2 separate regions of the Homo sapiens genome follow, and region 2 is linked to region 1. The links come from fine-mapping of genetic effects on gene expression. A gene starts in region 1. The other region holds a variant in brackets. All regions are shown on one strand. Distances are from middle to middle.

Region 1 (8,347 bases):
TTAATGGAAAGATCTCATACATACAAAGAACTCAAACGCCTACTCAGGCCTCTGCAGGATCTCAGGCAACTTTTAAATATGGGAAACATACAACTATCAAAGTAAGATAGTCTACACATTCCTTGGAAGGACTTTAACCTTTCCAAAAAACTGTTTTCCCACATAGGTGGTGTTAACTTGACTTTCCTAAACTCGTAATAACTTTTAGATTTTTTTCATTCCACCACACAACATTCAAAATATTGAAACATCCTAGGTTAATCTAAAAAATGACTTTACAGAAGATAGTTTTACACAAAAATAAGATTAATATGGAAGGCCATAACGACTTTCTGACATTTTAGGTTGCCTTTCTGCAATCACTAACTTCTTTTCTCTTAAGAATGGTAATAACTAAATTTTATTATGTACCTATCACTTGCCAGAGTTTATTATTAATAATTTATAACTATTAACTTACTTGATACAAATAAATCTATAAAGTAGAATTCACATTTATCATGCATACATATAATGCCAAGGAACTGAATAACAAATCCTTTACCAATGGCTACACATACAAAAATTGGTAAAGGGAGGACTTGATTTAGAGAGCTTCAGAATCCACAATACTTAATAACTAACTTCTGACACATTTCAATCCCAGAAATTCTTAATAGCTAAAAGCATCACCATAATTAGAATAGTGAAAAGTATTAATGTACAAGAAATAGGTTTAGACTTTCTCACTGTGAAAGCACAACCCCAAATTCAAATATCAGAGAGTTGAAGAAAAACAGAACTAAAATGACTTAAATGATAAATTGCCAAATACAATGCTAGGTGGTGGAAAGAATCCTCCTATTTATGATATTTTGTAAAAGTCAATTAAATGTTTAGGAGAATTCAGTAATTAAAGTAATACCTGAGAACCAGGTAGACATAGACAGGATAGGAAATATTACTTTCACAAAGGAAAACACATATTATTCAAACAGGATAATAAAGATAATCATATTTTTTAAAAGGACTTAAATGAAAACAATCATATTTTTTAAAGGACTAAAATGAAAACAATTCGCTTTTACACAATGTGTTCAAATAGTCAAATAAAATGCTAAACATGGACAGGCATTAAGAGAACTGTAAAATAAACTACAAAACAATGCTGCTTTGAGGTTACCTTCAGTTGGACAAGGGGGCTAAAATATGCCCATAAATGATTACATTATTTGTTCATAAGTGATTAAAAGATTTAAAACAATACTAATAACAAACTGTAAGAATTCAGAGTCCCAGAAATCGTTCATTCCCTTCCATCAATTTCTACCATTCTCTCCAAAGCAATATGCACGAAGTCTAATGGGTATTTAATATCCAGGCAGGTCCAACAGTCACAAGAAGCAAACGTGTAAAAAGACAAGAAGAAATAAAAGAAAGAAAATGTTGAAAGATACCAAAATAAAGTATCTTGGATTTTTCAAAGATTTATCCCATAATACTAAATATTTTTACACGAACTAATGGGCCATGATAATCCCAAATATTCTGTATAATAAGGATTTATAAATTATATGTTTGGTTTGCAAGAATGAAATTATCATGTATAGTTTTTCTGATGAAAACATTTTTCTAAGTCATATATTAAATATCACTTTAATGTGGAATATTATTGAAAATATTCCAACTCATGAACAAAGGGTTGAATGATTAGAGTTTAGAAGATACTTGCAAGAATAAAGTAATCATTTCCTAAACATAGAGGCTCAAAAAATGTTAAGTTGGCGACAATACAACTGTAAAAATCATGTAGAATAAAAAACATGTCTCCAAATGGTAAAATGGTCTAAATAATGAATTAAAAGAAGGATTACAAATCTCTTCCCTCTTGATTTTACTTTTTAACTAGTTTATAATAAAATTAGGAAGAATATGAAAACTATCAAATTTTGAAAAACACTATCATTCTGTATTTTATCACTACACTGCTTAAAACGGCAATAGTGAAACACCAAAGATATTTGTGACTACCAGACACTAAAAAGTCAGATAAGATGAATAAACCGAGATCTTAAAGTGAATAAAAGTAAATATAAAGACAACATATTTAAAACATGCATTTCAAAGTACAGCATATGGAGTAAGATTAAGAGTTCAGTGCCTAAGGACAAAAGAATAAACGCTTTGGGGGAATACTTTCACCAAAGATCAAAATGCCCTGAACGTCCTTAGAGTATTGTTCAGAGAAGACGGCTGTAAGGCAGGCCAAAATAAATATTCAGTAAAAAATGGATATCATCCAACCATAACTTGAGTTTCAAGATAGACCCAACTTGTGGAGAATGATTAATACTGTATTATGCCACTGAGAAAATTCAATTAATTATAAAAGGTTTCTAAAAACTAAACAATGTTTAAATTTTCACTATAAAATACGGTGAAAAACTAAATCTGAAACACTTTTAAAGTAACTACAATTTCCACAAATAGAATTTATGAGTTCTAAATTTAAATGGACTTACTTTGAGGCCATGATCAACATTTAAATCTTGCTCTTCGCCTACATCAACTGATCCCAGATCAGGAGGAAGGCAGGGGCTGAAGGCCATGAGGTCCGTCTTCGGTGGCCCCTCACCAGAGCACACCCTCTGCGGCTGTTGTTGCGAGTATGACCAGCTCCCCACCGCACTGGAGCACACCAGAGTGGGCTTGCCCGCCCGGCACCCGCCCTCAGTGGGCAGTGCTGAGCACCGCAGCGCAGTGTACAGCAGCAGCGTGAGCACCAGCAGGCTGGATACCGCGCAGATGGCGATGATCAGGTACACGTTGACATCCACCAGCGCCGCTTCCGGACCCAAAACGCCAGCCGACTGCCTCGATGACGCTTTTGGAGCCTGGCCGCTCTCCACCAGCGACACCAGAACCGTGGCCGTGGCGGTCAGCGCAGGTTCACCATGATCCTTCACCAGGACCAGCAGACGGTGGCGCGGAGAGTCCGCTTCGTCCAGGACACGAGTGGTGCTGATCTCGCCCGTGTACAGCCCCACGCGGAACGGGATGCGAGGGCTGCTTGCAGCTGGCTGCAGCTCATACGAAAGCCACGCGTTGTAGCCCGAGTCGGCGTCCACTGCGCGCACCTTCGCTACCACGTGGCCCGCGCCCACAGACCGCGGCACCAGCTTGCTCGCTGCGCCACCAGTGCCACCCACCCGAGGCTCCAGCAGTGCCGGCGCGTTGTCATTCTCGTCCAGCACGAACACCTGCAGCGTCACGTTGCTGCCCAGAGGCGGCACGCCCGCGTCGCGCGCGCTCACCTGGAACTGCAGCAGCTCTAGCTCCTCGTGGTCCAGCGGCTGCAGCGCGTACACCTTGCCGCTCTCCGTGTGCACCGAAATGTAGCTCGACAGCGAGCGCTCGCCCACCCGCCGCTCCACAAGCGAGTAGGACACCAGCGCGTTCTCCTGCGCGTCCGCGTCTCGCGCAGACACCGTGAAGATGTGGCAGCCCGGCGGGTTGTTCTCCTTCACGAACACCGTGTACTCGGGCTGCGCGAACGCCGGAGCATTGTCGTTCACGTCGGCCACCTCCACAGACAAGCTGGCGGTGGCCCACAGCGAAGGCGAGCCCCCGTCCCGCGCGGTTACCACCAACTCATAGGCCGACACTCTCTCGCGGTCCAGGGCGCTGTCCAGCACCAACGAGTAGTAATTCTTGAAGGTGGACACCAGCTTGAAGGGGACATGGGGCATCAGGGAGCAGGTCACCTGCCCGTTGGCACCTGAATCGAGGTCGTTCACGCTAATTAGGGCGATGACAGTACCAAATTGAGCGTCTTCACGTACAGGCAAGGATAAGGAAGTCAGTGCTATCTCAGGGACGTTATCATTTTTATCCAAAATTCTCACTAAAACGGTGCAATGACCCGCCATGGGAGGATGGCCTTTGTCCGTGGCGTCAATGAGGATTTTGTATAAGTTTTCTTGTTCAAAATCCAAATTACCCCGAATCACTATTTCTCCCGTATTTCGATCTATGCTAAAGTGGTCAATAACCATAGTTTCAACAAGGCTATTAAAAGAATATGAAATTGCCCCATTGGCTCCTTCATCCGGATCAGAAGCATTCAGTTTGATAACTGTTGTTCCGTTGTCTGCGTTTTCGAATATTCTTACTTCGTATTCAGACTGTTCGAAAGTGGGAGCATTATCATTCACATCCAGCACTGTGACCAGCAGCTGAACAGTGCCTGTGAGCTCAGGTTTGCCCCCATCTGTGGCTGTCAGGAATAAGTGGTGCGCAGGAGCGTCCTCTCTGTCCAAGGATTTTCTTAATACGAGCTCAACCAGTTTATTCTCATCGTTCTTTGAATTCACATCTAGCATGAAGTAATCATGAGAGCTAAGCCTGTAGGTTAACACGGAGTTAGCTCCAACATCTGCATCGGACGCGCCCTCTAGCGGAAACCGAGAGTCTGGCATTCTGGATTCTGAAACAAACAGCTTTTGGTCTTTTACCCGGAACACTGGCGGGTTGTCATTAACATCCTTCACCTCCACGTCCACATGGAAAACCTGCAGCGGCCTGTCCACGATCACCTCCAGGTGGATGCTGCACTCCGCGCTCCGCCCGCACAGCTCCTCGCGGTCGATCCGAGAATTCACAAACAAAATGCCATTCTGCAGACTTACCTCCAGAAGGTCCCGGTGTCTTTTGGACGCCACCCGGAACAGGCGCGGCACCAGCTCCGCCAGCTCCAGCCCCAGGTCCTGCGCGATCCGGCCCACGAAGGTGCCGTGTTTGGCCTCCTCGGGGACGGAGTAGTGGAGCTGGCCGCTCCCCACCTTCCAGGCTGCGAGGAGCAGAAGCAAGAGTAGTAGTCGCCAGGATCCCAGCTCTCCTCGCCAGTGATAATCCATGTTAAATAGTCGTTTCCTATCAGAAAATATTATCTTAATATAAAGATGAACGACTGTACTTTCAGAGTCTTTTAATCCAATTCCGCTGCATCTCCCGTTGTTCGGCCTTTAGAGACAGATGCTGTCAGAGAAAAGACTTTGAACATTGACCAACCAGAACTTCTTGGTAGACAGCGACATCATGTGGCTTCAAAAGGTAATGATTACATGAATTACTTCCGCAATATCTGGGTTCTTCTATGCACTTTCTATTTCTTTATCATAATTTAATAGTAAATCCTTAACTTTATCAATTGCAGAGGCATTCATACTGTCTGGCTCCTTACATTAGTTTCAGCTAGGGATTTCTTCTTCATAAGGAAAGGAATTTCTTCCCAATATTTCAAATATCGTATCAATTAATAATAAATTTAAGTATGACCTGTATGTCATGGATATCAGAAATGTAAACTGTCCTCCATAGTTTCGTGTGGAAGAAATGCATTAATATTTATTTGGTCACCAGAAACACTGGTATATATTACTCTGAGGTGAGCATATAATTCTAACTTTTCTACATTTTATCTTCTTGTGTTCTTATTGTTAAATTTTTGCTTTTCTTTATTCAATAAATGTCAAATTGCCTGAACCGTTTTATTTACTAAAGTAATAAAAATGTATGTGCATATTCTTTACACTATTTCTCTATATCTCTATAGCTTGTTAAATTCAGCCTCTCACTTAAAACATTTTCCTTTATGATTTCTCTGACATGCCAAACTCTAGCAGTATTGCCATCATTGGCTTGTTAGTTCTTCATCTTTCTTCTGCTCCAAAAAGTGAGTATTTACCAGAATTATGCCTTTAAACTTTTTTCCCCAACTTTTTATTTAACGTTTCTATTTCCACGGCTTTAAACTAGCCTATTATTTGAAGTATTCTTAACTCCATATCTGCAACCCCCTATTTTCATTTTCTACCTGACATTTTTACCTGTATACCCTAACATTGCCTAGAAAATGAGTCGACCAAAGTTAAAAGAATATCTAATCAATAATCACCCAAAACCCAAATCATTAAAAAATCACAATTTTTATAGCATAGTGATTCTCCACATTTACTCATATGTATTTTTATGACTTCTTTTCCTTTGCCTACCATATTTAAAATTTGTATACATCCCATCTCTCCTTTCACGTGTGATAATTTCTGTCCTTATTAGTACAGCTTTCACTCGATTTCACTAAAATCTTCAACAAGTTTATCTTTCTATTGACTAATTGTCAAGACATTAGACTTCCATCTGGGAGATACGCTACGTGACCATGAGCCAATCTTCTCAGTGCTAAGGCTAACCACTTTCCAATAGGAGTCATATTTTACAGAAAATATGTTGTCTCCTTCTTGGCACACTCTTTGTTCAAGGTTTTTCTTCTATTACTTCATCTTTTTCTGTCAAAATTCTATTCATCTTTCAAAGTCCACCTCAAAAGTAAATTCTCCATGGATTCATCATGAATGCCTTCATAGTAGGCAATTAAGAGCTCCTCCAAATTTCTACAAAATTCTTACCAAAAACGTAGGTTAAATAGGAAAGGCAAATAAGGGTATTTTCTGTGAAATGATTTAAATTTGTCATCACATTATTTACCCAAAAAAATCTCTGTAGTTGACTCTAAATAGTAGCAAACAATTTGTAAAGAAAATAGTATTTCTCGATATCTCAGGAGTTTGAGACCAGCCTGGGCAACATGGTAAGACCCCATCTCTACAAAAAATACAAAAATTAGTTGGGCATGGTGGTGTGTGCCTATAGTCCCAGCAACTTGAGAGGCTGAGGTAGGAAGATCACTTGAGCCCAGGAGGCAGAGATTGCAGTAAGCCCAGATTGTGCCACTGCACTGCAGTCTGGGCTACAGAGTGAGACCCTGTCTCAAAAATAATAATCATCATCATCATCATAATAATTGATGAATACAGCTTAGGTGGCTAAGGAGGATCCCCTATCAACTTCAGGTATTTCCCAATATAAATAGGATATTTAAAACTTTAATAATATGCTAGGAAGGTTTTAAATATACATGCATGTAAGCATAAAAGCAAAGCAATAAAAACAGATTACAGTTACATCTTTGAAGGTCAAAGATATTTATAGATTTTTCCACAAAACTGAATATCTTTCAACAAGAGCAGCAAACTTGGTCTGCTTATGTGAATGACATATTATGGCTTAATGGTAAATAATTCTATTGATTATCAGACAGGTTTTTGACTTTGCATACCTCTATCCTTATTCACGTTGAAAAGAAAACAGTAACATATCCTAAAATAATTTACTAAAGTATATTAGAATATTAGGAACAGTGAAAATTGTCAGTTCTGGGTTTTTATTTTATTTTATTTTATTATTTCATTTTATTTTATTTTTGAGGCAAGGTATTGCTCTGTCACCTAGGCTGGAGTTCAGTGGCATGATAACTGCAGCTTGGACCTCCCTGGCTTAAGTGATCCTCCCACCTCAGTTTCTTGAGTAGCTGAAACTACAGACATGCATCACCATGCATAGCTAATTTTACAAAGTCTCTACAAAAGATGCACAAGCTGGTCTCAAACTACTAGACTGAAGCAATCCTCCTGCCTCGGCCTCCCGAAATGTTGGGGTTAAAGGTGTGTGCCACCATGCCCCGTTAACTATCATTTTTTTGACCAACCAAATTATTTGTAAAAAATTTTTAAAAGTCTAGACAATTCGGTTATTGTTTCATTAATGTCCCTAATACAGTACTGGATGAATAAATCATGATATATCCATAAAAGAAAATAAGATGCAAATACTTTTAAAAATAAGAAAGCAAATAATCAAAAACAAGGAATAAGCGCTAATGAAATAATATGCCACAAAACCCAATATATAATTTAGGCCGGATGCGGTGGCTCACTCCTGTAATCCCAGCACATTGGGAGGCTGAGGCAGTCAGATCACTTGAGTCCCAGATTTCGAGACCAGCCGGGGCAACATGGTGAAACTCTGTTTCTACTAAAAATACAAAAAAAAAAAAAAATTAGCATGGCTTGGTTGTTGGCGTCTTTAATCCCAGCTACTTGGGAGACTGAGGCATGAGAACTGCTTGTACCAGAGAGGCGGATTTTGCAGTGAGCTGAGATTGCACCACTGCACTCCAGAGAGGGCGACAGAGTAAAACTCTGTCAAACACACACACACACACACACACACACACACACACACACACACACACACACACACTATATATATATAACTTAAAGTGGAAAACCAAAAAGTGCAGAAAGGTAGGTTTCTACTGTAATCACTTCTTTTTTTAAAAAAAAGGAAAGATGAAAGGCAGGCTGGGTGTGGTTGTTCGTGTCTGTAATCCCAATACTTTGGGAGGCCAAGGTAGGAGGATCGCTTGAAGCCAGGAGTTCAAGACCAGCCTGGGAAACAAGACTCCACC
Region 2 (8,347 bases), 35 kb after region 1:
AAAGTCAGGAAACAACACATGCTGGAGAGGATGTGGAGAAATAGTAACGCTTTTACACCGTTGGTGGGAGTGTAAACTAGTTCAACCATTGTGGAAGACAGTGTGGCGATTCCTCAAGGATCTGGAACTAGAAATACCATTTGACCCATTACTGGGTATATATCTAAAGGATTATAAATCATGCTACTATAAAGACACATGCACATGTATGTTTATTGCGACACTATTCACAATAGCAAAGACTTGGAACCAACCCAAATGTCCATCAATGATAGACCGGATTAAGAAAATGTGACACATATACACCATGGAAGACTATGCAGCCGTAAAAAAGGGTGAGTTCATGTCCTTTGTAGAGACATGGATGAAGCTGGAAACCGTCATTCTGAGCAAACTATCACAAGCACAGAAAACCAAACACTGCATGTTCTCACTCATAGGTGGGAATTGAACAACGAGAGCACTTGGACACAGGGTGGGGAACATCACACACTGGGGCCTGTTGAGGTGTGGGGGACTGGGGGAGGGATAGCATTAGGAGAAATACCTAATGTAAATGATGAGTTGATGGGTGCAGCAAACGAACATGGCACACATGTATACCTATGTAACAAACCTGCACGTTGTGCACATGTATCCTAGAACTTAAAGTATAATAAAAATAATAAGAAGAAATAAAAATAAATCTTGACCCCTACCTCACAACAATGATAAAAATATGTATATTCCAAATGGATTGTAGATGTAATGTAAACAATGAAATAAAAGATACCACAGAAAATTATCTTTGTGAAATAGGATCAGAAGCAAAAATTGATAAATTGAGTTTAATCAAAATTATGACTTTCTATTCACCAAAAGACAAAAAAGAATTAAAAACTAGCCATGAGGTTGAAAACTACTAAAAAAAGGAGTTATGTTCAGAATACAAGATTTGTTTAAGTAATAAGAAAAACAAGATAAGGAAATAAATAAAGTTCTATGGAAGCAAAAAGAAGAGAAAAAAGAAAAGAAAAACAACAGACTAGAGAAATAGGAGATTTGAGCAGCTATTGCACAAAATAAGGTATAAAAATTGCCAAAATAAAATAGAAAGGTACTCAACTTCATTTAAATATAAAATAATTTCAAAATGAGATTACAAAAGTCACCCAGTAAAATGGCTAACATGAAAATAACCTGACAAATGTAGAGATGATGTGGCCCAGCAGAAAGCCTTATGCACTACTAGGAATGTAAACAGGTAAAAACATCTTGGAAAATTGGTTGGTGTTAGCTACAAAAGACAAAGATACACACATATTCTGTGACCCACAAACACAACTCTTAGGCAAAAACCTGAGAGAAATCTGTGTACATGGGCATCAAAGAAATGTACAATATATTTATGATGGCATTATTTGAAATAGACATTGAGGCACAATGCAAATTCCTGAACAGTAGAATAAATAAGGTATAGTATATTTATGAAATAGTACTAGAAACAGAAATAAATAAACTACAACTACATATAACAACATGGATAATTTCATAAACAATGAGTGATAAATACAAATAACACACAAATGCACAGACAATACATGTTGTGCAAGTCCAATTAGATAACGTTCCCAAAACAGGCCCCGAACAAACAGTTATAAAAGGCAAATGTGCGGTTACACTGGAGGAAAAATAAGGGAAGTGATTTGGCAGGTGCATGCGAGGGGCTTCAGCGATGGAGGCAACGGAGCTTTTCACTTTCATACAATTTATGGAGCTTTATTATTTCAGCCTGTGCACATTTGTTTATATGTAATAGGTTAAATAATAGTAAAATGTTTTCTAAAATGTTGATTATTACCAAAAACAAAGAGGGTGAATATAGTGAAAATTTACTAGAAATTACAGTTCTGTTAATATGCATTGAATAATGCAGCATAAAATGAAGGAAGGCAATATATATTGCTCTGATGTCCTATAATTCCAAAAGACTTTAGTTAAAATGGATATGTAAAAAGAGGTAAAATTTTAACCCAGGGAAATTTGACTCTTAGAAATAAATTTACGAAGAAGTTGATAGAGAAAAACAATACGAAAATTAAACAAAAGGATGTTATACACTAACCTTTGCAAAGGATTCCTCAGTTGTCTGCAGCTGATCTTCTCTGTCCCTAGAGTCAGGTAAACTGGGGCTGAAGGCCATGAGGTCGGTCTTGGGTGGGCCCTCACCAGAGCACACCCTCGGCCTCCTCTGCTGCGAGTATGACCAGCTCCCCACCGCACTGGAGCACACCAGCGTGGGCTTGCCCGGAGCGCACGCGCCCTCGGTGGGCAGCGCAGAGCACCGCAGCGCGGTGTACAGCAGCAGCGTGAGCACCAAAAGGCTGGACACCGCGCAGATGGCAATGATCAGGTATACGTTGACATCCACCAGCGCAGCATCGGGACCCACAGCGCCCACCAACGCCCGTGAGGAGGCCTTTGGCGCCTGTCCACTCTCCACAAGTGACACCAGCACAGTGGCCGTGGCCGTCAGCGCGGGCTCGCCGTGGTCCTTCACCAGTACCAGTAGGCGGTGGCGCGGAGCGTCCGTTTCGTCCAGGGCACGCGTTGTGCTGATCTCGCCAGTGTACAGCCCCACGCGGAACGGGATGCGCGCGCCACCAGTCCCCGGCTGCAGCTCGTACGAAAGCCACGCGTTGTAGCCCGAGTCAGCATCCACCGCGCGCACCTTTGCCACCACGTGGCCCACACCCACCGACCATGGCACCAGCTCGCTCACTGCGCCACCAGTGCCACCCGCCCGAGGCGCTAGCAGTGCTGGCGCGTTGTCGTTTTCGTCCAGCACGAACACCTGCAGCGTCACGTTGCTGCCCAGAGGTGGCACGCCGGCATCGCGAGCGGTCACCTGAAACTGCAGCAGCTCTAGCTCCTCGTGGTCCAGCGGCTGCAGCGCGTACACCTTGCCGCTCTCCGCATGCACCGAAACGTAGCTCGACAGCGCGCGCTCCCCTACCCGCCGCTCTACCAGCGAGTAGGACACCAGCGCGTTCTCCTGCGCGTCCGCGTCCCACGCAGACACAGTGAAGATGTGGCAGCCCGGCGGGTTGTTCTCCTTCACGAACACTGTGTACTCGGGCTGCGCGAACGCCGGAGCGTTGTCGTTCACATCAGCCACCTCCACAGAAACACTGGCCGTGGCCCACAGCGAAGGCGAGCCCCCGTCTCGCGCGGTCACCACCAGCTCATAGGCTGACACGCTCTCGCGGTCCAGGGCACTGTCCAGCACCAACGAGTAGTAATTCTTGAAGGTGGACACCAGCTTGAAGGGGACGTGGGACGTCAAGGAGCAGGTGACCAGCCCATTGACACCCATGTCTTTGTCGGACACGCTGATCAGGGCGATGACTGTACCCAGTGGAGCGTCCTCTCTAATTGGAAGTGATAAAGACTTGAATTCCAAATCTGGGACATTATCGTTGTTGTCTTCTACTTCCACAATAACTCTACAATGGCCAGAAAGTGGGAGCTGTCCCTTATCAATGCCCTCTACAATAATTTCATAGGATTTGCTTTCTTCAAAGTCAATATATCCCTTTACAATAATTTGTCCAGTAATTGGATCTATGTGAAACTTGGATTTCACATTTGGCGAAATATCATTTGAGAATGAATAAACAATGTCCCCATTCAATCCTTCGTCTAAATCTGAGGCGTTAAGTTTAATTACCAATGTTCCATTAGGAACATTTTCTAGTAATCTCACCTTATAAATGGTTCTGTCAAAAGCTGGGGCATTGTCATTGGCATCCAGTACTGTGATGAGTAACTGAACGGTGCCAGTCAACTCGGGTTTGCCTCCATCAGTGGCTGTGAGCACTAAAAAAATCTCCGGAGCTTCTTCTCTGTCTAAAGATTTCCGTAATATAAGCCCAAGACCTTTTACCAGCTCGTCATCAGGTGGTTTTTCCAGAGAAAAGTATTCATTTGGGCTCAGTCTGTAAGTGAGCAGGGCGTTCTCCCCGATATCTGCATCCGAGGCGCCCTCTAGTGGAAACCGAGAGTCAAGCGGCCTGGATTCCGCGATGGACAGGTTCTTTTGTGTTGCTGGGAACACCGGCGGGTTATCGTTAATGTCCCTCACCTCCACGTCCACATGGAAAACCTGCAGCGGCCTGTCTACGATCACCTCCAGGTGGATGCTGCACTCCGCGCTCCGCCGGCACAGCTCCTCCCGGTCGATCCGAGAATTCACAAACAAAATGCCATTCTGCAGATTTACCTCCAGAAGGCCTCCGCGGCCCTTGGACGCCACCCGGAACAGGCGCGGCACCAGCTCCGCCAGCTCCAGTCCCAGGTCCTGCGCGATGCGGCCCACGAAGGTGCCGTGTTTGGCCTCCTCGGAGACCGAGTAGTGGAGCTGACCGTTCCCTGCCTCCCAGGCTGCGAGGAGAAGAAGTAAGAGCAGCAGACGCCGGGATTCCTGGCCGCTTCCCCAGGAAAACTCCATCTTTAGTGCACAGTATTTTGTTCTGATTAAATATCGTTTCTCAAAGTCAAGGGAAATCTTTTAATCGGTCAGTCAAGTGCAGCTGCATCCTCCATATTTCAGACTCCAAAGAGTGTATATGGTTCCTTCCAGTAAGAATAGAAGGAATTTTCCCTTCTTCCTCCTTCTCTCATGTATTTTGTGGTAAAGAGCGACATCATGTGGCTCCAAACCGTAAGTAGCAATTGTGGAAACCCCCACACACTCTACTGTAAACTACTTGGTTTTATTTATTATTTCAGTCGTTTCGGAGAATAGGAATACATTTTGTACTACTGTGGTACACATTGTACCA[C/G]TGATTGATTGAGTGTGGTCCTTAGTTTCGCCATAGGGGCAACTTTTACTTCAGTAGAAATAATTTTTTCAACACAGGTTTTAAGTATTACAGAGACCTAACTATACACTTTGTAAACATGTAACTGTAAACTGTTGATTAGAAAAATTCATTACAGATTCCTGTGTTCCCAAGAATTCCAGGGTTTTTTTTTATTAATGATAACACCCTCTTCACCCTAGTATTTCTGGTGTTGTTGACTTGAGGGGACTGGTCTCTAGGGAACTTCTGGTGCCAAGAACAAGCTATTGACAGGGAAATTTGCAGATGTTTTATAAAAGGATCAAAGACCATCAGCATTTAATTAGATGTCTTCCTTGAGTCATGTCAGGGCTGAAAGTGCAAGGAAGCAGGAAGTTATAGCAAATAGCTTGCATGGAAAAGCATTCCAAATAATTTTATTCATTGGAACTCATTTGCTCCCATGAGAAACGCTGGTATTCTCATTTTGACTCTTACAGTTTATAAGTACTTGCTTGTTCTCCAGTATGTAATGTGCCTAAGCTTCTATTTTCTCCTATAGTGCTTATATATTTTAGCCAAACTGAATATTTCCTGCTTCCAATAGCTTTTTTTAATAAACAAGCATGTTCATTTTGTCCTGTCTATAAGTAATCCACATCATTTCTAAACTCTTCTAAAGCCAATTTACCCCATTTTATAACCACTTAAAACTTCCCTGACCCATGAAGAATGTCATGATCAAACCAATTGAACAGGTATTTTTTCTTCTTTTACAAACTGCAGCACCAGGGTGGAATCGCGTGGGCCATTTATTACATTAATTTATCTCTTATAAGCATTTGAGTATGTGTGTCCTTTTTTGGAATATATATTTTAAAGGGAATAGTTGTATCTTAATTGTTTAATAGCTCAGAGGGACTTACCTAATATTTCCTAAATATTTACCCTGCAGAAAATGTTTGCTTCCTTCCATTGCCTAATAAAATGCATTAATTTAAGGTGATCGCATATCTAGTTGGGAAAATGTGGTGTTTCAATAGCCTCTATGATTTTCTAAAGATACAAAAAAAGTCTCTAGACATTTCCCCAATTAAGATGTATTTCAAGTTCAATGTTGAAAACTTGGGTTTTAGCTTAATTTTTATTCTAATTCTTGGTAATCATGATCTTTGAATCATCCTGGGTATTAATGGGGAATGAAGACTTCCCAATAAATAAACCACAATACATTTTCTTACATAAAGAAATTTAATATATAAAGACATAATGGTAGCCATTTAAAAACTTTCCTTGCCTCCTATATCCATAAAGTTATTTTCATCCTGTTTGTCTAAACAAAAAATCAATCTAGTGAAAATAGCTTTACGCTCCCTCTCTATTGAAGAACTACACTCACACAAACACACACACACAAAAACCAAAACAACAACAAAAAACCCACCAAATTTCTGAATCAAACAGAAACCAGAGTACTTTCACTATGTGGGGACCCAAACTATATTTTTACAAAATGATCATTGACATCAAGCACATTGGAAAAAAGGAGGAAGAATTCCATTTTCACCCATTTCATTTGTAATATTTTCATTTACCAGGTATTTTAATGTACAGATGGGGAATGCAGCAGAATAGAAAACAATGTTTATTTGGTAGCTATTCAATATTTATTTGGCATAGCATCAGTACATCTGTGAAGTGAAAATTCCAAAGTCTTCAAAATGTCTTTGCCAAGAGTCTTGTTAGACAATAGTTTCAAGAGGCAAGCTGGATTTGAAGATTGAAGTTCCATATCTGGGAAGACAAGTACTTTGGCTGACTCTATTATATTCAAGAAGCTGATAACAGAACTAAATTTTTAAAATACTGACCTGAGATGGACACACTATGGCTACTACTTCATGGACAAGGGAGCAACAAAGGATAGTGCCAAAAAAGGAAATAAAGAAAATGGAAGTGAGGGGAAGGAGAGGAGTCAAGAAAAATATCTATTTTACGTGTTAGACCTCCCACACTGTCAATGAGTATTAACCAGGTTTCAGTTGGTTACTATTTCTCTCCAGTGGTAGGGAAACTTAAATGGGAGTCCAACTAATTGCTAGAGGAGATAACCAAATATGTAGGGGTAGTGATTAGAAAAAAGTCTACCTTCAATTTCATTTGGTTCTGGTTATTTGGAGTTTTCTACTTATTGCATGGCACACATTAATAGGCAGGATGCTATTCAGAGAAGTTAACCAGTAATAACATTATAACATTGGCTTATCAAACTTATTTCATATTAGCATCCTTAGTATGGTATGCAAAAGACACTAATGAATAAAAAGTTTTGCTAGTAGGGATAGTTTTAAAATTAGATACCATAATTATTTTCAAGATATTGTTCAGATTGAAAATTATTTTTAACAAGATTTAAAACATTCTTTTAAAATGAATATATAAATATACTATACAACTATTAAATTTTCACTTCATATTGATATTTTAGTTATTAGTAATAAATTTTAACATATAATACAGTAGTATTATTAAAGTAGTATTAAATAAAGTAGTGATAAACTAAAGATGAACAAAGATGCAATTCTAAATGCAATTGTTATTCTCGATTTTTTTCCCAACTGGGAAATCAAGAAACAATAAACGGTATTGCCAAATTAGAGCACAAGGCCTAAAATGAATCATATTCAAGTAAAAAATAAGGATTGAGACTCCAAACAAGTGAATAAGAGAATAAAAGAGGTTCCATAAAAGACAACAGGTGTAATGATCTAATTTTTGAAACTGAAGGTGGAAAAGCATAATCAATAGGGAGTTATAAGCATTAGGTGAACTCATAAAATGAGCAAGTAACATTTGTACTAACAGGTAGTAGGAAGTCCAAATGAAAAGTGGCAAAAGATATTGAAGAAGCATTGTATAGGGATAAGTATAAAACAAGTCGAAGTCAGATTCTCTAAATAATGCAATTCATCTAAGAAAAAATATTTGTCTTATACCCAGGCATTTAGCAATAAAATAATTCTACTACTGCACCTAATAACAAAACAAAATTACAAGTGTGGATATCATAACTTACTGCTGATTTGGTTCAAAAATTAGCAACAAAAATCTTACCGTTTTAACCACAAAACCACAAAACTGGAAAAGTCTAATTATGAATCACATAATTCATACTTAACTATTAATGTATTTCCAGAGGAGTGGAAACATTGAGGAATGAAAAACAAAGACATTTTGGAAAGAATAAATAAAAATTACTCACTTTGGCTGAGAGATCAACGTCCACATCCTGTTTCTCCTCTCTATCCCGGCTAATTGGACAAGGAGGAAGGCTAGGGCTAAAAGCCATGAGGTCGGTCTTGGGCAACCCCTCTCCAGAGCACACCCTCTGCTGCCTCTGCTGCGAGTATGACCAGCTCCCCACCGCGCTGGAGCACACCAGCGTGGGCTTGCCCGGCCCACAGTCGCCTTCGGTTGGCGGCGCGGAGCACCGCAGAGCAGTATATAGCAGCAGTGTGAGCACC

Alleles and levels. Positions count from the first base shown, and alleles are read on the strand shown. Sizes are in standard deviations (SD) of each study's normalised expression.
With allele C in place of G in region 2, the expression in cerebellar hemisphere of the gene that starts at base 5,030 in region 1 is higher (small effect, 0.37 SD a copy in GTEx).

What was found. PIP is the estimated chance that this variant, and not a neighbour inherited with it, causes the effect.
Region 2: its variant is the best candidate, but not a certain one, in a credible set for the expression of PCDHA8 in cerebellar hemisphere (GTEx, PIP 0.70).

What each region holds. Positions count from the first base shown.
Region 1 is chr5:140,837,870-140,846,216 of GRCh38, reverse strand. PCDHA8 (protocadherin alpha 8) reads right to left here and starts at 5,030. Exons shown (of 4, transcript NM_018911.3): 1 at 2,502-5,030. The coding sequence starts at 4,895. All of the region lies in intron 1 of PCDHA1 (protocadherin alpha 1), which reads right to left. All of the region lies in intron 1 of PCDHA2 (protocadherin alpha 2), which reads right to left. All of the region lies in intron 1 of PCDHA3 (protocadherin alpha 3), which reads right to left. It also overlaps PCDHA4, PCDHA5, PCDHA6, PCDHA7 and PCDHA@.
Region 2 is chr5:140,803,330-140,811,676 of GRCh38, reverse strand. The region is part of intron 1 of PCDHA1 (protocadherin alpha 1); the gene reads right to left. All of the region lies in intron 1 of PCDHA2 (protocadherin alpha 2), which reads right to left. It overlaps PCDHA3 (protocadherin alpha 3), which reads right to left. Exons shown (of 4, transcript NM_018906.3): 1 at 8,086-8,347. It overlaps PCDHA4 (protocadherin alpha 4), which reads right to left and starts at 4,609. Exons shown (of 4, transcript NM_018907.4): 1 at 2,105-4,609. The coding sequence starts at 4,489. It also overlaps PCDHA@. The variant C/G (reference allele first, on the strand shown) is at 4,824.